Linked DNA regions of Homo sapiens. The protein of the gene in region 6 purifies or fractionates together with the protein of the main gene of each other region. This does not show direct contact. Each region holds a gene or a part of one and is shown on either strand. Other genes may lie near its edges.

Region 1 (4,052 bases), on a different chromosome or scaffold from region 6:
AAAGACATTGGGAAGGCAAAAAGCCGACTCAGGAGTCCACACCTAGGGCTCGCTGCAGGGTCCTCAGTATGCAGCTGCACCTGACATCCCCACCCCCTCTCAGTGAGGTCACCGCAGGCAGCCCAGACTCAGCACATCCAGGACCCGCTGCTGGGGCCAGGCCCCCAGTGCTGTGCTCAGGCAGACACCCCATCCCTAGGGTGCAGGCTGTGGGGTGAGGATGTCACCTGGGCTGCAGCAGGGCTCACCAGCCTATGTGGTGCTCAAAATGGCCATGTGTCCCCCACAGTCAGCCCAGAGCACCCAGGCCACTTCAGAGAGTCAGGGCAGCCATGAGGACAATGGGGACCCACCCACCCAGGTTCTGCTGTCCCAGGAAGCAGTTCCTGAACCCCTGAGCCCCCAGCTCCTGGAGAAATCAACTCACTCTGTCCACACGCTCAGGGTCCCCACCACCACCTAAAAAAGAAGCAGTCTCCTTAGCAGGAAGGGAGGGGCCCATGAAGCACCCCCCTCCCAGAGGACAGTGGGGCGCAGGGCTGGGCTGGGGGCTGGGACACTGGACAAGGAGCCCTGGGGCTGGGGACAGAATGGGGCCTTACAACTCAGAGACACCCTGAGGAAGGGGGATGAGAAGGGGAACTAGAGTAAAAACAAACACTTGGAAAATCTCTGGTTCTGCTCTGACCAAGGCTGAAAAAATCCCACGACCACTTCTCATCCTCACCCTTGTCACCCAGTTGAGGAGCCGACTGCCCCCTGCCTGGCTGGGCCTGAAGATGGGAGGAACTGGCCCTGCCCTCCTGGACTTGGCTGGGAGATATGGGGACCCCCAGACCTGGGAGAGGGACTGAAGAGACCAGGGTCCTGGGGGGTGCACGGGATGTGGGGATGGGGGTGACCACGAGGAGGAGGATAGAGCCAGGCTGGAGGCACTTAGACTTGGGGCAGGGGCAGGCGTTTCTGTCTGTGGGAATAGGGTGGGAGGGGGCAGGGCAGAGAGTGCCCTGTGCCCCCGCCCTCAGCCAGCACCTACCTGAGCAGATGCCTTTCAGGTAAGGAAGGACTTTCTTCCACAGTAAAGACTTGCAAACAAACACAGCCACAATCAAGACTACGGCTGCAACTGTGACTCCTATGATGATGCCTGAGAGAGAACAGGGAGAGGCAGGAGTCCCTGGGCTGGAGGTCACCGTCTCCTCCACAGCTGGGACTTCCCCACTGTGCTTTGTACCTGATTCTTTGTGGACACATTCGATGTCACTCCAGGGTGTACAATCACCGACCTTGACCATCCCTCTGGGACACCTGGGTACACACACAGAGGGAGAGGGGGGACTCTTGATGGAAAGCTGGCCAGGTGGGATGAAAGAGGAGCCACCCTCCCTCCCCAGTGTCCCTGAGAAGGTGTCAGGGGAAGGACAGTCTCCTCGTGTCAGCAGTGGGTCCCCCTGTGCTCCCTTCTTGAGGCTGGGGAAGGGTCTGAGCATGCGCACTTCAGCCCCTCGGCCTCCCTGCTCTGGGGTCAGAGCTGCAGTTCCAGGAGCCTTCTGTGCTGGGCACACACTGAGCTTCCCTGGGCTGCAGGGGAGGCCTGCGTTAGGAGCAATCACACTCCAGGGGAAGGTCACAAGCCCGTGTGGCCACAAGATGAGTCCGGTCTTCCAGTCAACCACAAAAGTGAGCTCTTGTCCCCAGCTGTCTGCCCATTTCCCCCAATCACAGCAAATACTAGGGGGGCCAGAGAAGAGCAAATTACTCTTGGCCCCTAAAACCCAAATAGGGAAAAGACAGGTCTTACTGAGGGATCAGGGGCCAGGGGTGAGGCCGGCTGGGTGGGCTCAGGTCCTCATGGGAACTTGAAGGAGCTCCACCCATGGCCTTATTATGCCTTTTGTGGGCCATGGGCACTTTTGTCTTTATGGGCCCCTGCATGCATAAAAATATTAAAAAATACATTTTATTGCTGAATTGGTATAAAGATGAATATATGCCTGGCTGCATTCTACTCATTCTTCTTATTTCAAGAGAAATTAAATCATTTCATGGGCCCCTAAAATTATCATGGGCCCCAAGTCATGGCCTTCTGTGGTCAGTGAACAAGTCAGCCTGGTCAAGGGGACTCGTGCTGGGGAGGGGTGGAAAGAGGCTGCTGCAGGGGGCAGGGGTGGTGACACGCAGAGGGACCAGGAGGGGCAGCCACAGCCTCAAGGATGCCCCTTGCGGGTGCTGTCAGGGGAGAGACAGGGGTACAAGGAGACTTGGGTCTTTTGGGGTTCCATGGAGCTACTGGGAGCCCCCGGCTCCTGTCTCACCCTGTGCGGCACTTCCGGCACATCTCAGGAGAATCTTCTTCCCGGAAGGTGCCTTCTTCGCACTGACACACTGTGTTTCTGGTCGTGGTGCAGGGACTTAGCTCCACTTCACCTGACGACAGAGCATAAGGTTTTGGGAATGTGTTTTCCTGATGTGTCCCTTGACCCTTCCTCCCCACCCCAAGACCCTGCTACTCAGCTCAACTCAGTTTGCCAAGGAGTTCTGAGGGCCAGTTTCTGCACCAGCACACTCATGGCTCATTCAGGATACCCACCCTTCAGCTGTCACTAACACTCGTTGAGTCATACAAAAGGACCACAGTTCATTATTTATTACATTAGATTAGGGGAAAGCACCGTTTAGGGGACAAGCATCGTTTAGATTGCATGGCCAGTAGCAAGGGAAGTGCAAGGGATCACCTGAGAGACTGCAAGGAGAGGAGCCCTTGGGGGACTTCCCCAAGGCCCAGCCTGCTGGGGAGGAGGGAGAGGCCTGAGAACCTGAAGGGTGAGTGAGGCCGAGCACCTGCCAGGAGCACAGAGCCCAGGGGAGAGAGCCTGGCCCCAAAGCAGACCTGTGCCACTGCTGAGATCCAGCCCTGTCCACTTGGCCTGGCTCATGGCCCCACCCCCTTGCAGCTGACAGTTTAAAAGATTTCCTTACCATGTAGCATACATTATACAAATAATTTCTGTATTATTATTATTTTAATTAATTATTGAGACAGGGTTTTGCTCTGTTGCCTGGGCTGGAATGCAGTGGCACAATCTCGGCTCCCTGCAACCTCGGCCTCCTGGGCTCAAGAGATCCTTCTGCCTCAGCTTCCTAAGTAGCTGGAAATACAGGCACGCGCCACCATGCCCGGCTAATGTTTATATTTTTGTAGAGACGGGGTTTCTCATGTTGCCCAGGATGGTTTCAAACTCCTGGGCTCAAGTGATGCCTCCCAAAGTGTTGAGATTACAGGCATGAGCCACTGTGCCGGGCCTGTTTTATTTATTAAAAAGCTCAAAGACAAAATCATGGAACATGGTATGATGAAGACCAAGGTGGACCAGAATCTAGGTCTCCTGATCCCATTTTAGCTACAACTTTTATGTCATCACCCCGCATTCCACCTTTAGGCATGGGGTCCATATGTTCTGTACCTGAATCACACCTGGTGCAGCGCAAGCAGAAAAGGAGGTCATTCCAGTGAGTGCTATAGTCCTGTCCATATTTGCAGGAGATGCAATCTCTACCGTCTTCTGAGATATGGTGTCCTGGGAGGGGAGAGAAAAGCCGGTGAATGAAATGCCACAGGATTCCCAGAAGCTGGCAGTGGTGGCTGGGGGACTCCTCTTTCAGGGATGTGTGGAACCAAAAGAGGGAAATCTCCTCTACCTAGCTTGGTCAGTTCATCAATTCTGCATTTACACACCTTAAACCAGCACTGCCAAAAGAAATATAAGCCACACATTTATTTATTTTATTTTTTATTTTTGAGACGTAGTCTCACTCTGTCACCCAGGCTGGAGTGCAGTGGCGTGATCTCGGCTCACTGCAACCTCCGCCTCCTGGGTTCAAGAGATTCTCCTGGCTCAGCCTCCTGAGTAGCTGGGATTACAGGCACACACTACCACACCTGGCTAATTTTTGTATTTTTTTAGTAGAGACAGGGTTTCACCGTATTGGCCAGGCTAGTCTCGATCTCCTGACCTCATGATCTGCCTGCCTAGGCCTCCCAAAGTGCTGGG
Region 2 (4,052 bases), on a different chromosome or scaffold from region 6:
ACCTGGCAAAGCTCTTTGGCTGATTCTGTTTTGCCCAGTTTAAAATGAGGTGGCTTAATAAAGGGGCTAAGAAGTGAGTAAGAGGGTAAATAGAAACCTTCTGATGCGTCTGACTTCTAGTTAATGCTAATGGATGTCAGAGATCCTCCCTAATCTAGGCGGAGGTTGAAGTTAGCCAAGATTGCACCACTGCACTCCAGCCTTGGCGACAGTGAGACTCCGTCTCAAAAAAAAAAAAAAAATTAAAAAAAAAAAAAAAAGGAATACTCCCTAATCTATTCCATGTCCTAATAATAAGTAGATCAGACTTTAATGTGACTCACCGAAGTTTCAGATGATCGAATACAAGATTACATTTAGCTTAGTTTAAATAATGGAGATGGAGTGAAATGAAGTAATAGGCTATAGGCCATAGGGAATGCAGAAAAACAGAGGAGGGTACTGATCATTTCAGACTCGGGAAAGACTCCTACTGCTGTCCTGTAAGCTACAGATGACAAATAAGAGGGTCCGTCCTAGGCAAACCTGCAAGATACCACAGACAGACTCATCCACAGCTAGGCTTAATTTCAAAACATTTCTCCAAGGATGTCCTGAAACTGCAGGGGCTCTTGGGTTTCCTGGGCTCCTTCTCGGAAAGGTGCCTTTCACTATTGTTTACGGTTCAAAGTGGTATCCTTTCTTTTTCCTCTTGAAGCAGCCAGTATTTCTGGGCTTTTGTAACAGGTAACAAGGTTACGGAAATGAAGTTAATCTCAAAGGACCCTTGAGAGTTTACTGAGGCCCCAGATGCTAGCCTACTAGACACATGGAACATTTTAAAAAATTTCCAGGACCATCAGCCAAGAATCATGCAGCATTTAATAAAAATAACTTAATAATAGTAACATTATTTTTTGATAATAAACCAGAGATTTTATCTCCAAAACTATACCATTTAAGGACATTACCTTGCTCTCAATATAAATTACTAAGACTGAGAGAGAAACTTTCAAGATTTGGACTCTTAAGAAATTTACTGCTCCTTAACAACAATAAAGTGAGAAAAGAGAAGCTGTCTCTTTCCTCTGGGGCTGGAGATGATTATGAAAGACATGCATGGTCTTTCCTGCTGATTGTTACAGAGTGCCAGCCCCCCACCCCACACCAGAACTCGAGGTCTGCCTGCTCAACAACAACGAACATGCCATGCAGACAGATACGTGAGCAAAAGGAACAATAATTAAAGAACAGTAACAAAAACCTCCTAAATGCTAGTTAACTTTTAGTGTTATGAAGACTCTGAGCTCTACAATTTCTACTTTAAAGGTTTTAAAGTATAAAGTTAGATATATATAAAACCAGAAAACCATGAGCTGAAGGCAGACTGAAAAGCATCCAGGTAGCAGTGGCTTCACACAACAAAAAAGACATCTTTCCTTTTGCTCTATGTGTTCACTCCAAAACAACCAGCACCTAGCACTTACCTCCTTGTGAGTTTTGAAGTTAATTTACTAAAGAGATTAGTGGAGCCTCGGCTTCGAGTCTGGGACAATGGTGTGGCTTCATGGGACAGGCTGGGAGAGGCAGGAGGGCCATTATATGTTGCGGTTCGCCGTTCCCGGGGCTGGCCGTGGAAAGTGCTACGACTGGCAGTGCCTCTTGGGAAGCGGATTCGATCTGGGGTGGCTGCACTACTGATACTGTGTGTTGAAGCAACTGGAGTTCTCTGATCAGGAATAGTGCTATGAGATCAGAAAGTAAGAAGCTCTCAGAACATGATATACAAAAATTTACAGTCACAATATACCTTTTATACACAGTGGAGAAAATCGGGTATAAAAAATCCAGATCCAAGGGGTATTTTATAGGACTTAGGAGCAAAAGGTAAGTTAAGTGGGAAAGGGTACCAAAAGAACAATACATAATGAGACAAAGCCTCATGGAGTTTAAGGGACCAGTATTATATATATTTTCAAGGACAAGATTAATGCAGGGAAATTCTAGGACAGAGAACAGCTAACTCAAACTTTTCCCCTTTGCTTCCCTCTCAAATTGCTTACATAGAGAACTGTGCCAATACGAAAGAAATAAAGGATATGCTGGCGTAACTGAAGAACAGGCAACTAAAAAGTTTTGGAAGTAAACAAATGATATATGTATAAAATTCCACATGCTGAAAGCAACTTGGGAGGAGCAGGAACTTCTTATACATTTTGTAGTACGCGAAGGCACGAAGACACACAATACACAACCGAGGACATCATGACAAAAGATGTGCTTAACTAAAATCACATGGAGGAAGGACGCCTTGTGGACAACTGTAACAAAATCTCAGACTATAAAATCCACAGCACAAAATTAAGAAGCAGTGGGTACACATTAGTTTCACAAAGAATGTGCATTTTTCTTACATAGCCTTGAAGTTATCTCCTTCACTGTCTATTGGAGGTAACATCATCTTGGGGTGCCCAGAGGCTGACATGGACATCGACTTCTGATGTCTCAGCCGACAGGTAGATGTACAAACTGAGGCAGGGCTAGCTGCGTAAGCGAACATTTCTGTCAGGCTGGGAGGGGTTTGGGTTCAGGCAGAGGCAGAAACACAGTATGAAGGAGCAGTGACCACAGAGCAACCTGTGTGTAATGCACACACCTTCCTCCCAAGCCATCTCATTTCTGGTAAAGAATAAAAATCTCCTAAGCTTGTTTTGGAGATTCTGGAGCAACTGCTAACCTATAGTTGCTTTTTTTTTTTTCCAAACAGTAATCATAAAAATCTATTACCTTAAAATAAAATAGCAGATTACATGTTTGAATATCTGTTTCTATGAGAGGGACAATGTCCTCTGAGGGTATGCACAAAATAAAACCTATTCTAAGAGATGCCTCAATTCAAATCTAAGTGGTAAAATGAATATATAATATGAGCATGCTATGCTCTCAACCTGTTCCCAAAACACACTGACATATTTTATTTTTTCTTTATTTATTTTTTTTGTAGAGACAGGGTCTCGCTATATTATCCAGGCTGGTCTTAAATTTGTGGCTTCAAGTGATCCTCCCGCCTTGGCCTTCCAAAGTGTTGGGATTATAAGTGTGAGCCACCACACCCGGCCCGCACTGATGTATTTTAAATGAATTAATAAGATTACAGGTATAGGAACTAGCTGTTATATAACAGTATCCTATGTTGTTTGGTGTTTTTTTGAGACAGGGTTTTGCTGTCACCTAGCTGCAGTGCAGTGGTACGATCATGGCTCAATGCAGCCTCAACTTCCTGGGCTCAGGTGGTTCTCCCACCTCAGCCTCCTAAGTGGCTGGGAATACAGGCGCACTCCACCATGCCTGGCTAATTTTGTATTTTTAGTAGAGAGAGTTTTGTCATGTTGCCCAGGCTGGTCTTGAACTCCTGGGCTCAAACGATACGCCTGCCTTGGCCTCCCAAAGTGTTGGGATTACAGGCATGAGCCACCATGCCCAGCCTTCCAATGTTGTTTTAACAATATAGTCTAGAACCTTCCTAATCAAAGGACATTTACTCCAAGATAAAAAACAGTCAGCAGAGCCCCCTTCTCCAAGATGGGCAAATTCATCAGAGCAAATTAACTGTTAACAGACATGGTAAGATAGAGTGGCTGGAAGTCTGCAGTTTCATCTAACACACACAGTTACCGGACAAAACTACCCCCAGGAGTCTCACTGGGACACATTATTTGGAATTCCAGCTCAGTAATCATGTCCTTGGAATTCAAGGGCAGTTTCTTTCCTTTAAGGATAAGTAGGAATACAGCTCTTCCAGTGTCTTTCTGCAGAAATCCTTTGGAAGGATTAAAACCTGGAAACTGGCAAGTTCTTCCTTTCCCTCACTCCCCATACACAGACTAACGACATCTTATTGGTGTCAACTTCCTAGTAGCTCTTCAGGTGGCCCATCTGCTCCACTTCTACCAGGGCCTCAGTATAGAGCCTCGCTCCTTGTCTTCACTGGGTCCCCTGCCTTTGCCCCAACACCTCCAATCTATTCACCTTACAGCTGAGAACTTCTTAACATATAAACCAGATCTTGTCAC
Region 3 (4,052 bases), on a different chromosome or scaffold from region 6:
TTTTTTTAATTTTCAGTGGAGACGGGGTTTCACCATGTTGGCCAGGCTGGTCTTGAACTCGTGACCTCAGGTGCTCCACCTGTCTCAGCCTCCCAAAGTGCTGGGATTACAGGTGTGAGCCACTGTGCCTGGCCAGTGCTTTACTTCTGTCTTTAGTACAGGCTAATGGTTTGGAGCCTACTGGCGTGCATATGACAGTCAGATAATGACTAATATTACTCATTCTTAAACCATGTGAACAGTGTTGCTAGGCAAGTCTTTTTTTAAGGTAAGACTTGTAAGTGAAATTACCACTAAACTTTGTGTGTGAGAAAGACAAAACTTTTTTTTTTTTTTTTTTTTTTTTTGAGACAAAGTCTGACTTTGTCACCCAGGCTGGAGTGCAGTGGCGCAATCTCAGCTCACTGCAACCTCCGCCCTGCCAGGTTCAAGTGATTCTCCCACCTCAGCCTCCCGAGTAGCTGGGACTACAGGCGCCCACCACCATGCCCGGCTAATTTTTTTTTGTATTTTTAGTAGAGATGGGGTTTTGCCATGTTGGGCAGGCTGGTCTCGAACTCCTGACCTCAAGTGATCTGCCTGCCACGGCCTCCCAAAGTGCTGGGATTACAGGCATGAGCCACCGTGCCTGGCTGAAAGACAAAGCTTTTACAACTATTCTTAAATTATCAACTTTTGATAGATAATATCCTTGTTTTCTGTATCTTGCTTTGATACTGCTTTCAAGGAGATAATCTCATTAAAGCATTTTACTAAAGGCCAGTATAGTGAATGTAATCACTTTTACACAGAATTGTGTCAGCATGACAAATGTGACTACTGAGACATCATTCTGTTAACATTAAAATAAGTTTGTAGGTGGTAATGGAATATGTGGCAGTTACGATCATGAGCTAGGAGAGTGGAACACTTGCTGTCTTTTTCATAGCTAGTCATAGGTCCTTAGCGTGTAGTGATCTTTATTATCTTCCAAGGTGAAGAAAGGAAAAGGCTCGTATGTTGAGAAGCATAGGAACTTGAGTCCCGCAGGTGTTCAAGTGGGCTAGGCTGGTGTGGGTTTTCAGATGATCATTGAGTTTTTCTCCCAAATTTGTATAGGCACTAGCACAGTAATCCTGTGCACTTAAATCTGGCAGCAGCTGTCAGGGGTGATGGGCTGGTATGGGGAACCCCTCAGTCCCCAGAGGAGGGTTTACACAATATTGCAGGGGGCTGTTGCCCTGGGGTTTTCAAGATGCACCATTTTATCTCCTAGTGCTGGGCTTTGACAAACTTCCTCTGTGGGGTACCATCCTCATCTCGGTGGGATGTGCAGTTTTCTGTGCCCTTATCGTCTGGTTCTTTGTATGTCCCAGGATGAAGAGAAAAATTGAACGTAAGTAATAACTAAACAGCAGAAAAGTTTAACTACTAATGTTGTGTTTATTTTTTATTTGGCCACCTGTAAAAATCTATTAGAAGAGATTGGCAAAATAAGAGATTTTAAAGGGAAATTTGAGGATATGGGTTTGTTGTCCAAACTGTTTTTAGAAATGGACTTACATGACCTAAGACCTGTTCTTAAAAATGGACTTACATGACCTAAGACCTAGTGATAAAGAGTATTCAACCTATGCTGTAGAGACAATCTGGGGCATTGAATTTTTTTATGTTCCTTGATCAGTTGCCAGTGACATGATAGATAAATAGAGAAATCATAGCCTACATTTACTGAGAAGTAGAAGGATACCTTAATGAAAAATAAGGGGTAGATACAAGATATTTTCGTAGAGGAAATATTTACCCCAACTGCTTCTGTGTATAACTTCAGATTCAGACAAGCAAAGCTAAGTCTAATGTGTACATGTTGTATATAGGCTAGAATACATGTAGACATTGTATTGCAGTATACAATGCAAATACATATACAAACACACATTGTGTGTCTGCTAGAATTGTAGCACAGATTCTAGAAGTAAACATTTTCAAGTGTCAAGGAATCATTTAGGCCATTACCACACACTCATGTAATTAAATACTGAGTAAATTTTGGTTAGTATCGGACTTTTTTTTCCTTAAAATAATCATTTTCTGCCCTTTTCATCGATGTGAAGGCTGGGTTAGCAAGTTGAAGTTTATCGTTTCGAAGCTGAGGGATGCATAGACTGCAGTGGTGTTAGGAAGAACGCTGCGTCACCGCAGCTGAACCGAAGAGCCTCCGAGAGGTTCTGTGCTAGTCTGGCTGTGCCGAGTGCACGGTGGGAACCAGGCTTTCAGGACTCTCTGGCCTCATTTTCCCTCTCTGGGAGGAGTTGAGACAAGTCTTGCTTTATGTTAGTCAGTCTGTAGTTTGACTGAGGTGCCTGGATGGATAGGTCAGCATACTGAGCACTGGCATGAGAGAGGCAGAAGATACTCTGGTCTGCCTGTGGGATTTACAGCCATGATGCACATCTCTTTGTTTTATAGAGGTGGAAATTAAAGTTGTCGTCTTTAGTTCCCTGCATTGAGCTGTGCCACTTTGCTTGAATTGGTGGACTGAAATTTGAGAGAATCCTCTTTTGAAAAGAATAGAATTGGGTACAGTTCAGATTTTTAGTTTCAGCTTATCAGCCCCATGGTTGAGCTACTTTCCCCTACAGAATGAGTCAGCAGGGAGCTAAGAAGGGTTCTTATATCTGTAAAGGGTTGTAAAAATAAAAACAAAACAACAATGTGCTACAGAAGCCCGTAAAACCTAAAATATTTACAGAAAAATTTTGGGACCCCTGACATAGGGTGTTCTGCATTGCTGGTTGTTCCCAAGTGAGAGTTGCTGGCAAATGATAAAGCAGGCAGGAAAAATGTTCCTGAATGTTAATTGAAGTTCACATACATTCTTGTTTTGAGATGAGTTTTTTGGGGGTGGAGGAAAGGAGACGTGGAACAAAGTAGTATGGCCACAACCAAACCAAAAAAGACCCCCCTTTTTTTTCCTAGGAGAAATAAAGTGTAGTCCTTCTGAAAGCCCCTTAATGGAAAAAAAGAATAGCTTGAAAGAAGACCATGAAGAAACAAAGTTGTCTGTTGGTGATATTGAAAACAAGCATCCTGTTTCTGAGGTAGGGCCTGCCACTGTGCCCCTCCAGGCTGTGGTGGAGGAGAGAACAGTCTCATTCAAACTTGGAGATTTGGAGGAAGCTCCAGAGAGAGAGAGGCTTCCCAGCGTGGACTTGAAAGAGGAAACCAGCATAGATAGCACCGTGAATGGTGAGTTGGAATTCCTGGTTTCACTTTTGTTACCTGCAGTGGTGAGGAGGCTTATTGTTTTGGATTTGATGCTTTTTGTATTGAATGTCACCTTGGTGATCTTGACTAGGTGCAGTGCAGTTGCCTAATGGGAACCTTGTCCAGTTCAGTCAAGCCGTCAGCAACCAAATAAACTCCAGTGGCCACTACCAGTATCACACCGTGCATAAGGATTCCGGCCTGTACAAAGAGCTACTCCATAAATTACATCTTGCCAAGGTGGGAGATTGCATGGGAGACTCCGGTGACAAACCCTTAAGGCGCAATAATAGCTATACTTCCTATACCATGGCAATATGTGGCATGCCTCTGGATTCATTCCGTGCCAAAGAAGGTGAACAGAAGGGCGAAGAAATGGAGAAGCTGACATGGCCTAATGCAGACTCCAAGAAGCGAATTCGAATGGACAGTTACACCAGTTACTGCAATGCTGTGTCTGACCTTCACTCAGCATCTGAGATAGACATGAGTGTCAAGGCAGAGATGGGTCTAGGTGACAGAAAAGGAAGTAATGGCTCTCTAGAAGAATGGTATGACCAGGATAAGCCTGAAGTCTCTCTCCTCTTCCAGTTCCTGCAGATCCTTACAGCCTGCTTTGGGTCATTCGCCCATGGTGGCAATGACGTAAGGTCAGTTGACATTGATCTTAGTGTTGCTAACCCTATTTTTAAACCATTTATCCTTGTCACAGGCCTGTGCTTGTGGTAGTGGTACTCCTAGCATTTACAGGACCCCAAATAATACAAATAGGATGAGGTAATAGCAGTTATTGACATAATAAGACA
Region 4 (4,052 bases), about 19 Mb from region 6:
TTTTCATTTGAAATGTTTTAACTGGTGTACATTTTTTTGTTGTACTTTGTTCTTTGAATTGAATAAAAAACAGATAGCAGTAGGAAAACTAGTATTTCTGTTACATATCAACCAGTATTAATGGGAGTATTTCATACAGTTGCAAATTAATCTGATTTACTATTGGATTAATTTTTTCTTAAACAAGGACAGGGTCTCCCTCTGTCTCCCAGGCTGGAGTACGGTGGCACAATCGTAGTTCATGCAGCCTCCAATTCCTGGGCTGAAGTGATTCTCCCACCTCAGCCTCCTAAGTAGCTAGGACTACGGTGCATGCCACCATGCCTGGCTAATTTTTAATATTTTTTGTAGGGATGGGATTTCACTCTGTTACCCAGGCTGGTCTCGAACTCCTGGCATCAAGTGATCCTCCTTCCTGGATTCCCAAAGTGCTAGGATTACAGGCATGAGCTTGGGATTAATTCTTTTTTTTTTTTTGAGATGGAGTCTCGCTCTGTCACCTAGGCTGCAGTGCAGTGGTGCAATCTCGGCTCACTGCAAGCTTCACCTCCCGGGTTCACGCCATTCTCCTGCCTCAGCCTCCCGAGTAGCTGGGACTACAGGCGCCTGCCCCCATGCCTGGCTAATTTTTTGTATTTTTAGTAGAGATGGGATTTCACCGTGTTAGCCAGGATGGTCTCGATATCCTGACCTTGTGATCCGCCCGCCTTGTCCTACCAAAGTGCTGGGATTACAGGCATGAGCTGTCATGCCTGGCCGGGATTAATTCTTTATCCATGTTATCTGCATTATTTTTGATTTTCTGCTATATTAGGGAATATTGGTAAGACCCATTCCCTCTCTGGCTGTTCCTAAAGGAAGAGAATCTTAAAAGTTAGACAGGGCAGCATGGCTTATTGATCATGAGATAGATATATTTTAAAATTTTCCATAAATTTTGGTGATACCTTCTTTTATTTTTCTTTTCTATCTCTCAGGTGGACACAAATATATCTGTTATTTTACCTACTGTTCATGAGGTGGATATTTTCAGGTAAAGAATAAAAAATTTTATTAACTGACTTCCTTTTGCTTTGTGGTGGTGGTGTTAATTTATTTAAAAAATGAATATTATATAGGATGTGGAAAAAATTGGAAGAAAATAGTTATGTTTTACATGTTATAAATCAATGGTTCATCCCTGGGTACATGTTATAAGCTTTGACAATTAGGGAAATTTAAATATAGAATATGTATTATATGTAAAAATATTTTTGTTTGGTTTAGTGTGAGAATTATATTGTAATAATGTTAGAAAACATGCTTTTTTAAAAAAGAGATGCATTTTATTTGGGAGTGAAATGTCATGATGTTTGTGTTCTATTTTAAAATACTTCAGTAAGAAAAAATAGATGACGTGAAAAATGGCAAATATTAATCATTAAATCTGAGTGATATGTATATGATGTTTCTCACACTGTTGTTTTTACTTTTCTGTATGTTTGAAAAATGTCAACATGGAAAATGAAAAAACAAAAAAGAGATACTGTTAGCACTTAGAAAAGAAATAGAGGAAAAATAAAAAGTAATGTTTGTGCCTTTACCCAGAGCAGCTAAATCTTTGGATTGGTACCCAAGTTCTAGTTCCCCAGGTAGTTCTGATGTATAGGCCAGCTTGAAAAACCACTGCTATAAATGAGCAGTTACGAAATGCTCAAAAAGTCATGAAAGACTTAAAATGGATTTTTTTGGTGGGATCTTTTTTCTTTTATTTTTGAGACAGAGTCTCACTCTATTGCCTAGGCTGGAGTGCACTGCTGCAGTCTTGGCTCACAGCAGCCTCCACCTCCCAGGTTCAAGCGATTCTCCTGCCTCAGCCACCCAAGTAGCTGGGACTACAGGTGCACACCACCATGTCTGGCTACATTTTTGTATTTTTAGTAGAGATGGGGTTTCACCATGTTGTCCAGGCTGGTCTCGAACTCCTGACCTCAAGTGATCCACCTGCCTTGCCCTCCCAGAGTGCTGGGATTACAGGTGTGAGCCACTGCGCCTGGCTGACCTTTTTGTTTGTTTTTTATGACTTGTAAACTACATGGAATACTGCTTCAAAAGATTGGTTAGTTTAAAAAAAAAAAAGATTGGTTAGTTTTATATGTTGCTCTAGCACAGTACAGTCATCCTATTTCTAGGTATTTATTCAATAAAAATGAAAATGTGTCTACATGAAGACCTGTATGCAAATGTCTATATAGTAGCTTTATTCATAACAGTATAAAACTATACACAACCGAAGTATCCATCAACTGGTAAATGGACAAACAAAATGTAATACATGAATGCACATGGAATACTATTCAGCAGTTAAAAAAAAGAAGGAACAGTTGATACATGCAACAATGTGAAAGACTTCCAAAAGCATTATGCTAAGTGAAAGTTTCCAGATAATTTAAAGATACTGAATGATTCCATTTATATGATGTTCTGGAAAAGATAAAACTATAGGGACAGAAATCAGATCAGTGGTTACCTGGGGCTGGGGGAGGAAATCTACTACATAAGGGCTGCGGGCATTTCGTGAGGTGATGGAACTATTCTAGATCTTTGGTAAGGGTAAATTTTACTGCATATAAATTATAAATGTGACTTTTAAAACAAATTAATTTTCTTAAAAAGTACATGTTATGGCATTATTAGGATGAAAAGAGGGAGTGTCCCCAAAATGAATAAATATTACAGGCAAAATATACTAAGAAGAATGTGTACATTTCTCGTTTTGATACTTGACTCATTAAGGAATAATTTGCAGAATTGGCATAAATTAATATAGAGTTCAATTATTGGACATTTTTTCTTTTGAACTTCTGGGTATGAGTCTTACGCTTTATTGTTTGTTACTGATTATCTTAGCTTTTGTGGTAATCTTGCATATCCCATATCTGAAATGGTCAGAATCAGAAGTGTTTTGGATTTTGGACTTTTTTGCATTTGGGGATTTTTGCATATACATAATGAGATATCTTGGGGATGGGCCCAAGTTTAAACACAAGGGTCACTTATGCTTCATATACACCTTATACACATAGCCTGAACGTAATTTAAAAAAATATTTTTAATGATTTTGTGCATGCAACTAAATTTTGATTGCATTTTGACTTTGACTTACCTTGAGGTCATAAGTAGAATTTTCCACTTGTGGCATCATGTCAATGCTCAAAACCTTTTGGATTTGGGAACATTTTGTAATGTAGATTTTCACATTAGGGATGCTCAACCCTTAGTTAATTACCCCCATCACTAACACCTTTGATTAGCACATGTCTTGTCTCCTGGATATGAATTACATAATATTGTTTTAAGAGTGGGGCAAGTAAGTTTGTTGTTTTTAAATTCTTGTTTCCCGCCAGATGCAGTGGCTCACGCCTGTAATCCCAGCACTTTGGGAGGCCGAGGCGGGCGGATCATGAGGTCAGGATTTTGAGACCAGCCTGACCAACATGGTGAAACCCCGTCTCTACTAAAAATACAAAAACTAGCTGGGCATGGTGGCGGGCCGCCTGTAATCTCAGCTACTCAGGAGGCTGAGGCAGGAGAATTGCTTGAACCCAGGAGACGGAGGTTGCAGTGAGCTGAGATCGTGCCACTGCACTCCAGCCTGGGCAACAGAATGAGACTCCATCTCAAAAAAAAAAAAAAATTCTTGTTTTCCAAGAGATGAGAAAACCAAATTTTGAAAAATAATCTCACACAGTGATAGTATTATATCAAGCATTTAATATCTAATGATTAGATTAATGCTTTATTTGTGACTGTGCTTTTTGTTTCTGTAGAGCTTACATTTCACGTTTATTAGTGTGAATGAAAGTTTACATATTTATCCAGTTATATTGAAGGTGATAGATTTACACCAAGACTGAGCTTGAAAGCAAAGTAAAGAGACCTAGAAAGGCATTTGAATTTGAGTAGCAGAGATACAGTTGAGTGTAGGCGCTCCTTTCACTAGGTCAAGGTCTATTCCATGGACCACGCCTTTGGTTTCAGCTTTCTTGATCACAGAAATAGTTTCCTCATTC
Region 5 (4,052 bases), on a different chromosome or scaffold from region 6:
CCCTTGAGTTTCTTTTTCCCTCCCTAACACGTACATTCAGACCTGACCACTCTGGCGGGGATCTAGGAATTTGAGGTTGCAGTGTATCGGCTCCAGTTAACACACTGTCTTCCTCACCTTTTGCACATGGAGCCTCTAGGGGGCCTGCTAGGGTGACCACCAATGAAGGCACCAAAGGGACAAATAACTCAATGGACTAATGACCCACTGTGGCCACTAGGCGTCAGTGTGAGCTTGCTTGGCTCACTAAAAAGGATGGGGTGTGGGCATCCCCAGTTGCTGCCCACACCCCCATGGTTCCCTGGGGAGAGACAATTTATTACACACCTACCAGGTAAGAATACTCCATGCTAGATGCTCTTCTGCTATATCTCATTTAATGCTCACAACCCCAGGAAGCAGGTCCAGGTCCACAATCCCTTATTTGAAACCCTTAGGACTAGATGCATTTCAGAATTTAGAATTTTTCACATTTAGAAAGGCAATGGTTGTGCATAGAGCGTTTACTGTGTAAGATCCCCAGCAGCATCTGGGCCACATCCCATAGTCACACATATGAATACATCTGCAGTGAAACTTAAGACTAAATTAAATAAAAGACTATGAAGAGCCTTGGTTCAGGCTGCACCATCGAACCACTTTTAGTTTGAATAAGGGACTGTAGGCCAGTATTTTATCTTTTGCAATATACAGTATACAGAACTGGAAACCGAGGCCCAGAGAGTGTAAACCATTGACTAATAACAGGCTGGTTTAGACCTGGGGACTGCCTGACTCCACAGCCAATGCTCTACCAGCCCTTAGTCCCCATGGTTCAATCCAGGGAATGAAAGATGTGAAGAAGGCAAGCGTTTGTCCTGGGGACCATAGGGGGACTCTTAGTTTGTGTTTCTCAAACTAAGAGTGTGCTTCTCAAACACACCCCTTCTTCCACCCCCCTGCTCCAGACTGCTCCCCCCAGCCCACTCACGGTGCACATCCAGCTCGATGGAAGTCTCCTTGCCACTAGGGATGGCTTCGTTCATGCTTCGGCAAGTGAAGACACGCCCTATGTCCAGGTCCGTGGGGTTAATAAGCAGTTGGCTCACGGTGGTCTCCCTCTTCCCATCCTTCAGCAATTCCTGGAACATGACAAGGGTGGGAGATATGGTTAAGCTAAAAGCCCCCTCCTCTGCTCTTAAGTTGACCTCACTCAGAGATGGGCTTGGGCTGGAGGGGTACTTTAACTTAAAGCTCAATCCCCTTCACTCCCACAACCTCTTCCCTTGTGTGTGTGTGTGTGTGTGTGTGTGTTTAATCAATAGACTACTAATTATCTTTTAATTAAAAGTTATATATTTTTAGGGTCTTGCTATGTTGCCCAGGCTGGCCTCCAAAGCTTGGACTCAAGCAATCCTCCTGCCTGAGCCTTCTGAGTAGCAGCGACTACAGGAGTGTGCCATCATGCCCACATCACAGACTATCTTTTGGAGCAGTTTTAAGTTTACAGAAAAATTGAGCAGAAAGTACAGGGAGTTTCCATATACCCTCCTCCCCGACCTTACACTTTCCCCCATTACTAACACCTTAACACCTTGCATTAGAGTGATAAGTCTGTTACAACTGATGGACCGAAACTAATATATTATTATTAAGGCCACAGTTTATATTAGAGTTCACTCTTTGTGAGTCCAGCGCAAATCCCTTCTCTTCTGGAAAGCCTTCTTCAGCCAGCCCAGCCCTCAGAACTCTCTCCCAGACTGAATTTATGCCCTTATAGTCAGTGTGTCCTGCTCACAGCTCTAGACACATCCAACCTTGCTTGTAGGCACCATGTGTGCGTGTTTCAGGGTTGGGTTTCTTCTGCTAAACTGTAAACTCCTTGAGGGCAGGGAAGGGACTCACAGGCTCGAAGTCTTACACTTGCTCAGTGACAGCCAGGGGTCCCTAAATATGGTCACAGGAACCCTTGATCTGTTTTCTATATTGCAAACTGCCTGAGGGAAGCCATATTATTAATCAAAGTAAGACCCCGTTGTTTGACCACCATGCATGCAGCTTTGCTGGACAGGCCCAGTTGAGGGCCAGTGCAATAACACTGGCTCCCTTGTGCTGCTTTGAAGCTCCATTGTCTTTAATGAATATGAAAAATGGGGGTAGATGACAAATGGATATTAACAAACCAACTTGTTTGGTTGCCAAAATATCTAAAAACATGTAGCCCTGATGAAGAAAAATCACAGTTTTTGGTTGTGAAAAGGTTAAGTACCACTGAGGCTGAATTATCATTTGTCAAATGAGAAACTAAGGCCAGAAAAAAGTGAAGCGAATTATCCAAGGTCACACAGTGTGTTAAGGGCAGAACTGAAGCCAGAAGCCAGGTATTCCTGGGATTGCTTGCTGAGGAGCATGGGAACATCTCTGTCTCCACACTGAGAAGTGCTCCTGCAGCACCAGCAAAGGGCTGAATACACATATGTTTACCCACAACTGGCAGGGTAACCCCAACCAGGAAATCTGGCTTTGAATTCCAGCTGTACTGTCCGCTTTGCTATGTAATCCTGGGCAAGTCACTTGATATCTTTCATGGCTTCCTCATCTATAAAATGTATACAAGGATCTCTGCTTCCCCAGCCTCTTTGTTGTGATGACTGGAATAATCTGACAACCAGACGCTGAAGGAAAGAGGTAGAAGTGATCAGTGGAGAGAAAGCACAGTCAGACCCAGGTACAAACCCCCGCTCTGTGCCAGCTGTGTGACCTTGGACAAGTCACTCAACCTCTCTGAGCGCAAGTTTCCTCCTTTGTGAGTTGGAAATAATGCCTCCTTTATGGGACTCCTATGAAGATTAAGAGAGACTGTCCATAAAGTGTTTAGCATGCACGGTGTCTGGCACACAGTAGGTGCTTAATCCATGGCAACTTATTATTACTATTAGTCTCTGTTCAGCTACTGAATGACACAGTAAACCTAGGAATTCATTTCTCTTCTCTGGGTTTCAATTTTCCCAACTGTAGAATGAGAGGGTTGAACCAGATGACCTCTAAGACCCCTCTCATGTCTGTGTGCTCCTGAGTCTGTGGTGAAACCCCTGTGGGAAAGGAGAGGTGAGCTGGGCTAGGCCCAGGAGGAGCTGGGGGAGCTGGCTGGAGCTCACCGTGCTGGCCACAGCGCCCTCCTGCTGCGTCCCGTCCCGGAACCAGATGATGGTGGCAGCAGGCTTCGCATTGAAGGCCCGGCATGTGAGGTTGTGGGGGGTGCCTGCCTGCAGTAGAATCACAGGGCCTCCGTCAATCCTGGTGTCCTCTGGGGGGACTGTGGGAGAAAGCAGAGCAAAGTCAGTGCAGGGTGTGGCTAACACTTCCCTGAAGACCAAAACTCCTGCCTCTGGAAGCATCCTTCCACCTGCATGTGCGCCTCTAGGTAGGCGGTACCACCCTACCCCCTAATCTACAACCACTGTCTTCATTGCTCTTGTGGTGGCTTCCTCTAGGTCCTCAGCTCACACATCTTTCCCAGTCCTTGTCTGCTTTTCTTTCCTGGCCTATAATATTTTCTGGTACTCCATGCCCCTACTGGTTTATTGTTTGTTTGTTTGTTTGTTTTTGAGATGGAGTGTCACTCTGTCGCCCAGGCTGGAGTGCAGTGGTGCCATCTCAGCTCACTGTAACCTCCACCTCCTGGGTTCAAGCGATTCTCCTGCCCCAGCCTCCCAAGTAGCTGGGATTATAGGCGCCCACCACTGCTCCCAGCTAATTTTTGTATTTTTAGTAGAGAGTAGGGGTTTCACCATGTTGGCCAGACTGGTCTCGAACTCCTGACCTCTCAGGTGATCCACCTGCCTCAGCCTCCCAAAGTGCTGGGATTACAGGCGTGAACCACTGTGCCTGGCTCCATACCCCTACAGTTGCTCAGAGCTGCACACTACAGATGGAAGCCTCAAACTTAAGAAAGGGCTGGGCTATCTCAGGCCCTGAGTACAGCTCATAGTCTTGGGAGTCTGGCTCGGAAAGGTGGCTACCTCCATAGCACTTCTCCCATCCTTCCTCCTGTCTGCTCCTCTGCCCTGGAG
Region 6 (4,052 bases):
CATGTGTACAGCAAGCCTAGAATAACCAGGGGAAAGCATGGGGCTGTCCGAAGGCGGGAAGCCATTATTGGTCCTGGGCCGGGAAGAGACATGGCTGACCCTTGAACAATCCCAGCCTGCTTTATCCATTGATTTCCAGTACCTACCACTGCCTTAGTCAGAGACATCACTGAGCAATGTAATAGAGTCAGAAGAAGGCAGCAGCATTTCCACCACCAGAAAACCTGGGCATTCAGTAGCAGTACCCCCAGGACCACAAGGAATAGGCACCTCTAGGGCTGGGATGGACCCGTAAGTCTGGTAGAGAATGAGAGACCAAAAAAGAAAGCCCAGAACAAGGGGGTGGGTGTCTGTTTTGGAACACAGAATTAGTGATAGAACCGGAGGGAAGGAAGAGAAAGAATTCTGAGAAGGAAATAAAGTCCCCTTTGTAAAGACCCCAAAAACAGATGGAACTAGGAAGTCTGAACCTCAGCAAGCACTTCACATACCAGTGATGTGGAGCACTTGGAAACTGGGTCTTTGAAAAATGCTTCCTCCACCCTAAGAGTCCAGTTTGTAATCACTTCCCAGTGCAGCAAACTGTGTCTCACTGAGTTCAAGATGAGACAGACAGAGTCCCACAGAAGCGTTCCCTAGCCAAGCTTGAAGCAGGCCAGGGGAGGAGTAGAAAATAAACATGGGGGCAGCCACAGGGGGCTGCCAGCCTGCCAAGCCCAATAGACAAGCCTCCACAGATACCAACCGCTCCACCAGGGCCTCCAGTGTCGGCTGCCTGTCTAAGGCAGCGCTGCCCACACCTCCCCAGGTCCACAGCAGGAAGCCTGGCCCTGCCCTCAGATTCCCATCTGGCCACCACACCCTGAGGGAGAGACTTGCACCCATACCTTTGGGGAGAGGCTGCCCACCTGCCCTGGTGTCCCCGGCCTGGGGGCTCCAGGCCCACAGCCTCTGCGGCTCCCCGGAGCGCCACATGGCAGGTCCACTCAGGGGAAGGGGCATGCCCACGGCCTGCTACAACCCCAGTGCTCCGCTTGGCAGACAGGGCTAGCCTTAGCTCCTGAGGCCCCCAGGTGAGCAGAGAGGGGCTGCTGGGCAGGCAGAGAGTCCCCAGCAACAGGCACTTCCTGGCATTTCTGCGTGTACGGGAGGAAGAGGCTGAGTGCCAGCCTTAAGGCAACGGTCAGAGGCGAGTGGGCGGGTGCGGGCAGGCAGGCTGCCCAGCCACCCACAGCCTCCGCCTCCCTGAAACCTGAACCACTTCTGGGAAAACTCAAGGACGCCAGGATTCTCCTCGGTGGTAAGCTGTACACCAGAACCACTAATTTTGAACCAAACTCTCACGTGCTGAGCAGATTTCACTAAGCAGGAATCTCCTAGGCTTTGAGGAGAACCTCACCTCCAACCCTGCATCCAGAGTGGGGGGATGGATATGCACTCAAAAGCCGTTACCCCTACTTCTTACAACTGTAGACCTCTTTGAAAGCGTGAGAACATTCTAGATCAGTGGTTCCCAATCTGAGATGATTTTGCTCTCACCTCTGCCAGGGACATTTAGCAAGATCTGGAAACATTTTTGGTTGACATGATTAAAGAGGATCTACTGGAATTTGTGGGTAGAGGCGGGGATACTGCTAAATATCCTACAATGCACAGAACAGCTCAACCCACCACTACCCATACACAACAGAGTATCATCAGGCCCAAAATGTAATAGTGTCAAGGTTGAGAAACCCTGTTCTACAGTGAGGCCCATGCAACCAGGACCCTGCCTCAGGACTATCTAGAGTCTATCTACAGTCACTAGCAAAAATATTATCCAGACCCAGTCCTCAACCCTCCAGATCCCAATCCATGGTGACAGGTCAGTATCCGTGAGTGGATCTAAACTCCTGAACCGATACTCCTTGGTTCTCATTTGCACTACCCTGAGCTCCCAAGCAGAGGGGCTGAATGCATAGGCTGGCACTCAAGAGGACAGCTTTCTGGAAAGAGAGACCAGGGCTAGAATCTGAACATCCGGCAGGATCACAAAAGGCAAAGTAAGTGAGGTACCAAGGTGGAAAAAGCACCCCTCCCCCGCAGAACAAGCTGCCCCTTAAGACTACTACAGTGGATATGTGCAGGGCAGCCAGGACTTCAAGGAGTCTAATCAGGGGGCAGTAGGTTCCCAGTATCTGTACAAAACAGAGTGGGTGCATACAATGTACACACACATGCACACATATACCGATTTACATTTTCCTGGAGGAAGGGTCCACAGCTTTCATCAGATTCTCAGAGGGGTCTATGACATGGAGGACCACTGTATAGAATGTGGGCTCTTCATTGGCTCCTTATAACAGGAGTTCCTTAGGTGAAGTGCCAGCAGAGGTCCAGGTGCTTCTGGAGATTCTTGATGCCCAGAAAGACCCACAGAGTAGTACACAGTAGAGGCCCACCCAAGTGATGGGAGGCCATAGGGTTTAGATCTTATGTTTTTACCCAGCTATAGGGCCTGGAAAGATGGGCAGGTTTCTCACATCATCTGCCTTGAAAGGGCCCCTAAGAGCTAGGGAGGATACCCATTCCTCCCAAAAGGCAGCCCACCCAGACAGGGCAGAGCCTCGAGTGCCCAGCAGATACAAGGACAGGTAGCAGAAAACACTCTTCTCTGGGAGGGGCACCCACGGCCCATGGCTCTGTAGCCCATGTCCTTGGCAGCTACCGCTACACTAGGCCTGAGGGATGAAAGTCACTTCACTTCATGAGCTCACTCCCTCCGCCCTCCCCCAAGGAAGTGGCCAAGAAACTTCTTTGGGTCAGCCTATCAGAGTAATCAGGGCCTGCACTTCCTGATGGGATAGACAGGAGGCAGGTCCCTCTCCAAGAGCTCTGGTCACTTCACTTAGAATACTGTTTACCCCACCCCCATAAGCCCTTTGATCTGAACCCCAAGTACAGAGTACAGAGACAGGTGTCAGGAGTTCTTGTAGGATACAGCATTGAGTGTCCAGGATGTCCACTGAAATGCAAGAGCCAAATGGCTTGTTTCCCAAGGACACTCGGCCAAGCACAGACCACAAAAGACTTGAAGAATTATTAAAGAACCAACTAACCACTGACTGATCTTGTGACAAGCACCATGTGACATTTATTACACCATAAATTCTACCTTCCCTTCTGAGATTCCATTGTCTAATATGGTAGCCACTAACCAAATGTTCTGCAGAGCACTGGAAATGTGGAAAGTTAGAGTTGAGGATGTTCTGTAAGGCACACACTGGATTTTGATGACAGTACAAAAATGGAATGCAAAATGTCTCGTTTTAATACTGATCTCAGGCTGAAATTACTTTGTATATATCAAATTCAGTGAAATATACTTTTTTTTTGAGACGGAGCCTCACTCTGTCACCAGGCTGCAGTGCAGTGACATGATCTCGGCTCACTGCAACCTCTACCTCCCGGGTTCATGCCATTCCCCTGCCTCAGCCTCTGGCGCAGCTGGGACTACAGGCGTGTGCCACCACACCCAGCTAATTTTTGTATTTTTAGTAGAGACGCATTTCACCACGTTGGCCAGGATGGTCTCGATCTCTTGACCTCGTGATCCTCCCACCTCAGCCTCCCAAAGTGCTGGGATTACTGGCATGAGCCACTGTGCCAGGCCAGTAAAATATACTATTGAAGTTCATTCCATCTCATGGAAAGAATGTGTCCCCCCAAAATTCATACAATGAAGTTCTGACCCCCAGTGTAATGGTATTTGGAGACGGGACCTTTGGGAGGTAGTGAGGGTTAGATTAAGTCATGAGGGTGGGGCCATCAGGTAATGAGAACAGGATTCACAGTCTTACAAAAAGAGGAAAACACCCCCTTGCCCCACCCCACCCCTGTCATTTGAGAATGCAGTAAGAAGGCAGATATCTGCAAGCCAGGAAGAGGGTCCTCACCAGAACCCAACCATGCCAGCACCCTGCACCCTGGGCTCAGACTTAGAGCTTCCAGAACTTTGACAATATAAATTTCTGCTGTTTAAGCCACCAGTCTACAGTATTTTGTTATGGCAG
Region 7 (4,052 bases), on a different chromosome or scaffold from region 6:
GCCTAATCACCTCTGGAGGAGCAGACACAATCGAGTTTCTGGACCTGCAAAGCAGAGGATAGGCCTGCCTCCTAGGAGGAAAGACACAAAAAGGAAACCATTTTTAGGAATCCATGTAGCATTATTATTAAAGTCCCCACGTCCCCAGGTTCCCTTCCCCAGCCACCAAGCCTTCCCCAGCCTTGTGGCTTCTCTCTCTGCAATCCCACTAAAAGCCAAAATGCTCAGAGCTGAAACCAGATCCAGGGAGAAGATTCATACCTTTGCAGGAAGCAGCAGTTTCCTGCTGGGAGAGGAGCAAGGGGTGAACAGGGAACCATGTGGGGGCGTGGGCGGCTTGGGGTGCTGGGGAGGGAAGGAGCAGGTTGGGGGGTTACCTTGATCGGGATGTTACCTTGATCAGGTTGAAGAGCAGAGGCAGAGCCCGCAGAGGCAGCAGCTTGGCCATGATGCCCAGTACCAGGCTGACGTCCTCCCCAACACGGCCCACGAGCTCAGCCACTTCCTTGCCCACCTTTTGCAGGGTCGTCTTGCGCAAACCCAGCACAATGTAGAGGGCAGCCAGGTATTCCTGCATGGCGGGCACGGTGAACACGAAGGTGCCTGCACGCCCTGGCTCCACACATGGGGCCAGGAAAAACCTCAGGGCATCCCGACGGAAGATGTGCAGCAGCTGAAACTCCTCCTCCGTCCTGATGCCAGCCTCCAGGCAGCCACAGACATCCTCTTCAGAGAAGTAGGTCTTGCGGGAGGACACCCCCTCATAGGCCAACTTGCCCATGGTTCGGGCTGCATAGGCCATCAGGGACAAATTGGAGGGGTCAGTGCTGTCCAGGGTTTCCCCGCTGAAGTTGAGGCGCAGGAAGCTGGTATAGATGCTTGTAAGGGTCTGCCCAGCAGGCGTGGGGGCATGCAGGAAGTGCAAGGTGGCACAAACGAGCCAGCAATAGGACGGCAGGAAGCAGGCAGCGGCTATCTGGTGGTGCCCCTCCAGGTTCCGGGAGAGCATCTGCACCAGGTGGTCACGCTGAGCTGGTGTGGCAGAGACACCTGAACCGCCAACGGCATACCCGCAGTACGGCTGGTTGAGGCGGAGCTGGAAGTAGAGCTTCTGCAGGTTGGTATCAGAGAAACCGCAGATCTCACCATAGCGGCCCACGTACTTGCTGGGGATACGGCCAATGGCAGAGGGCCGAGTGGTCACCAGAATGCTGGCCTGGGAAGAGCATGGTTGAGAGTTAAGAAAGACCTTAGTGTCCTGTTGACTGCTTCTATTCCCAGGGGACCCCTGAAGACGGAGTGTCCAAGGATGAAGACATTGATGAGGATAACAGTTATAACTAGCAATTACTGAACACCTGCTGTGATCCAGGCCGCTGTGCTAATATTATATGCAGTACCCCATTTGATCAGAGCAACTCAAAAAGAAAGGAACAGAAGGCTGGGGAAGTTACTGACTTGCTCAGGGTCGCACCACTGGGAAGTGAAGGGACCAGGAGTTAAAGTAACCCAGGACCTAGGGGGCGAGTCAACGGGCAGCAGTGATAACCTGGGGTAAAGGGCCACCCACCTGAGGCAGCATGTATTTGCGCAGCAGGTTGACGATGATAGCAGCTGGTTCCTGCGGTTCCTCCGGGTCACTACAAAGTCCCGTGCCTGCCAGCCGGAAGTCGAGGTTGAGATGCTCTAAGCCATGGAGCACAAAGAGGAGGTGGGACCCAGCAGCAGCCATCAGGGGCAGAACCTCCTTCAGGGGCGTGTAGCGCTGGGCCACAAGTTGGCACAGGGAGGCTGGGGCAGGGCCCAGGGATGACAGGTCCTCACAGGAGAAGGGGATGAGCAGCTCGAAGGCCGGCAGCCGCCCATAACACCAGTCCAGAACCATCTTGCGCACCAGCGTGCTCTTGCCTGTGCCCACTGTCCCATACAGCACCACTGTCTGCACCCGGCGCCCACAGGCATCCGGGTTAAAGAGCTGAGACAAGGCCAGTGGGGGGAGCCCGGCCTGGGGTGGCTGATGCTCCAGGGCCAGCTCCGCGGGTGGGCGAAGTAGCTCATCAGGGGTACTCTCGCGGATCACAGGGTCAACGTGGACCGTGTCTAGGGCAAAGGTTGGGCCAAACTGGCGCTCCTCCCTGGGCAGCCGGCTGAACCACTCAGCCAGGTTCCGGCGGTGCCGCTGTATAGCTTCTGAGTGGGAAGATAAGGGAAATGTGTCAGGGAAAGGGGCCTGGAGATGTAGCTTAGGGCCAATCAGGGCGGTGGTGAGGTCAGGCTGGGACATCACGGCATAGATGCTGGGGCCCACAATGGTGGGCACACAAGACTCCCTGAGAAAATATAGACTGTCCAGAAAGTCTGGAACCCCTATGTCAGAAAGTGGGAAGCCACTGGACAAACTGGTTTCACAGTGACCTATGTGCCGTCTTAACCTGCTTGACCCAACTTTGTTGAGCATAGGGATGGTATGGCTCTCCTAGCGCTTTGTACATATAAGTGTGCATTGCAAGAGTATTGCAGGAAGGGATACATAGACGGATGGGAGGGAGAGAGAGAGAGGAGGAGGGACCACCGATGGAAGATGGCAGTGGATCCTCTATGCCTCCCTCACCCTGCTTCTCCTTCCAGCCCCGTCTGCCCACCACACCCCCTGACCAGGGTCCCAGCCAGTCCCTTTACCAGTTGCAGAGGCGCTGGGGAACAGCCGTCCATGCCTCCCGGGTGGGGGAGCGCTATCTACCGAGCTTCCGTGGTGGCGTATAAAGGCCCTGGGAACAAGGAGAGGGGATGAGCTGGGACTTGTAACTTGGATCAGCCCCTTCACAGGCTCTGGGTCCAAGCCTATCTGCACTGCTAGACTTCTGGTTTCCTGAGATAAAGGCCCCACACTGGACCCCCAAGTTTAGAGGCTTGTCTGACTCTCACACCCTTCCCAGGTGCTGAGGCCTTAGCCCTAGCCCTCCAGACCCCACTGCTGACTGCCCGCCTGGAACTCAGGCTGGCCATGTGAGGCTCCACCCACTTCCCACAGGGTCCTCCCTCCACTGACTACTATGCCTTCTACCACAGATGATCTAAGCCAACTTCCTCTCAGGCCTTGGAGCTGCCACTGTCCTCCCACCCCCAAAGGACCAAGCCCCTCCCCAAGGTCCCCAAGAGATCAAGCTAGCCCCAAGTCCTGACCCTTCCCAGTCTGCTCTGTTGTGCCCAGACTAGTCCTAAGGTATGACACCCAGGCCTCACCTAGGGGGCCCAAAGGGACGCTCCCCTTGAAGGGGCCAACTCCAGTGGATCAGGAAGGGGATACGATCATCTACAGAGAGAAGGAAGAAATAGCATCTGCAGATCCCATGCAATACACAGAACCCATGTCTACATCAAACCCCCCAGTATTTGCTCTCATAGCAGCATGTACTGCCCCTTTGCAGCAGTTATTTTGCAATTTTATATTTCATTGTGTGATTATTCGATTAACATTCATTCCTCTCTCCTCCATGAGAGGGATCACATTTGGGTGTTTTAAAATTTTTTTGTCCCCTTTACGTCTGTTTTTGTTCACAATTATTTACTTAGAACTTAACACCAGGTCTGCGGTACGGCAGGCACTCAGTAAATCTCTGTTGTATGTAAAGTAAAATCAGACAAGTTCCTAGACTTATGTAGCTACAAGAGACTCTCGAAGATGATCTAGTCCAACTCTCTTTTTTTTTTTTTGAGACAGAGTCTTACTCTATTGTCCAGGCTGGAGTGCAATGGTGCGATCTCAGCTCACTGCAACTTCTGCCTCCCGGTTCAAATGATTCTCCTGCCTCAGCCTCCCAACTAGCTGGGATTACAGGTGTGCACCACTACACCTGGTTAATTTTTTTTTTTGTAGTTTTAATAGAGACAGGGTTTCACCATGTTGCCAGGCTGGTCTCAAACTCCTGATCTTGTGATCCGCCTGCCTCGGCCTTCCAAAGTGCTAGGATTACAGGCATGAGCCACCGCACCTGGCCAAGTCCAACTCCCTTATTTTAGGTTGGGAAAAAGGCAGCTGAGGAAGGTGAAGC

What was found.
Region 1: the proteins of ACVR2B (region 6) and TNFRSF10B purify together in Homo sapiens (affinity purification with mass spectrometry; one large-scale study listed by BioGRID and IntAct). This does not show direct contact.
Region 2: the proteins of ACVR2B (region 6) and MARK3 purify together in Homo sapiens (affinity purification with mass spectrometry; one large-scale study listed by BioGRID and IntAct). This does not show direct contact.
Region 3: the proteins of ACVR2B (region 6) and SLC20A1 purify together in Homo sapiens (affinity purification with mass spectrometry; one large-scale study listed by BioGRID and IntAct). This does not show direct contact.
Region 4: the proteins of ACVR2B (region 6) and DENND6A purify together in Homo sapiens (affinity purification with mass spectrometry; one large-scale study listed by BioGRID and IntAct). This does not show direct contact.
Region 5: the proteins of ACVR2B (region 6) and KIRREL1 purify together in Homo sapiens (affinity purification with mass spectrometry; one large-scale study listed by BioGRID and IntAct). This does not show direct contact.
Region 7: the proteins of ACVR2B (region 6) and NLRX1 purify together in Homo sapiens (affinity purification with mass spectrometry; one large-scale study listed by BioGRID and IntAct). This does not show direct contact.

Annotation. Positions count from the first base shown.
Region 1 is NC_000008.11:23,027,295-23,031,346, forward strand, and holds part of TNFRSF10B (tumor necrosis factor receptor superfamily member 10B isoform 1 precursor), read right to left. Parts: intron 3,579-4,052; coding exon 3,465-3,578; intron 2,428-3,464; coding exon 2,316-2,427; intron 1,309-2,315; coding exon 1,037-1,308; intron 460-1,036; coding exon 428-459; intron 1-427. UniProt on the Homo sapiens protein: Receptor for the cytotoxic ligand TNFSF10/TRAIL. The adapter molecule FADD recruits caspase-8 to the activated receptor.
Region 2 is NC_000014.9:103,489,449-103,493,500, reverse strand, and holds part of MARK3 (MAP/microtubule affinity-regulating kinase 3), read right to left. Parts: intron 1,725-4,052; coding exon 1,467-1,724; intron 1-1,466. UniProt on the Homo sapiens protein: Serine/threonine-protein kinase. Involved in the specific phosphorylation of microtubule-associated proteins for MAP2 and MAP4. Phosphorylates the microtubule-associated protein MAPT/TAU. Phosphorylates CDC25C on 'Ser-216'.
Region 3 is NC_000002.12:112,655,867-112,659,918, forward strand, and holds part of SLC20A1 (sodium-dependent phosphate transporter 1), read left to right. Parts: intron 1-1,255; coding exon 1,256-1,375; intron 1,376-2,958; coding exon 2,959-3,228; intron 3,229-3,337; coding exon 3,338-3,896; intron 3,897-4,052. UniProt on the Homo sapiens protein: Sodium-phosphate symporter which preferentially transports the monovalent form of phosphate with a stoichiometry of two sodium ions per phosphate ion. May play a role in extracellular matrix and cartilage calcification as well as in vascular calcification.
Region 4 is NC_000003.12:57,654,661-57,658,712, reverse strand, and holds part of DENND6A (protein DENND6A), read left to right. Parts: intron 1-977; coding exon 978-1,033; intron 1,034-2,217; exon of another isoform or gene 2,218-3,919; coding exon of another isoform or gene 3,920-4,052.
Region 5 is NC_000001.11:158,083,665-158,087,716, reverse strand, and holds part of KIRREL1 (kin of IRRE-like protein 1 isoform 1 precursor), read right to left. Parts: intron 3,296-4,052; coding exon 3,138-3,295; intron 1,122-3,137; coding exon 971-1,121; intron 1-970. UniProt on the Homo sapiens protein: Required for proper function of the glomerular filtration barrier. It is involved in the maintenance of a stable podocyte architecture with interdigitating foot processes connected by specialized cell-cell junctions, known as the slit diaphragm.
Region 6 is NC_000003.12:38,456,525-38,460,576, reverse strand, and holds part of ACVR2B (activin receptor type-2B precursor), read right to left. Parts: intron 1,147-4,052; exon of another isoform or gene 1,003-1,146; coding exon of another isoform or gene 888-1,002; intron 1-887. UniProt on the Homo sapiens protein: Transmembrane serine/threonine kinase activin type-2 receptor forming an activin receptor complex with activin type-1 serine/threonine kinase receptors (ACVR1, ACVR1B or ACVR1c).
Region 7 is NC_000011.10:119,171,617-119,175,668, reverse strand, and holds part of NLRX1 (NLR family member X1 isoform 1 precursor), read right to left. Parts: intron 3,314-4,052; coding exon 3,244-3,313; intron 2,769-3,243; coding exon 2,680-2,768; intron 2,191-2,679; coding exon 1,571-2,190; intron 1,217-1,570; coding exon 395-1,216; intron 1-394.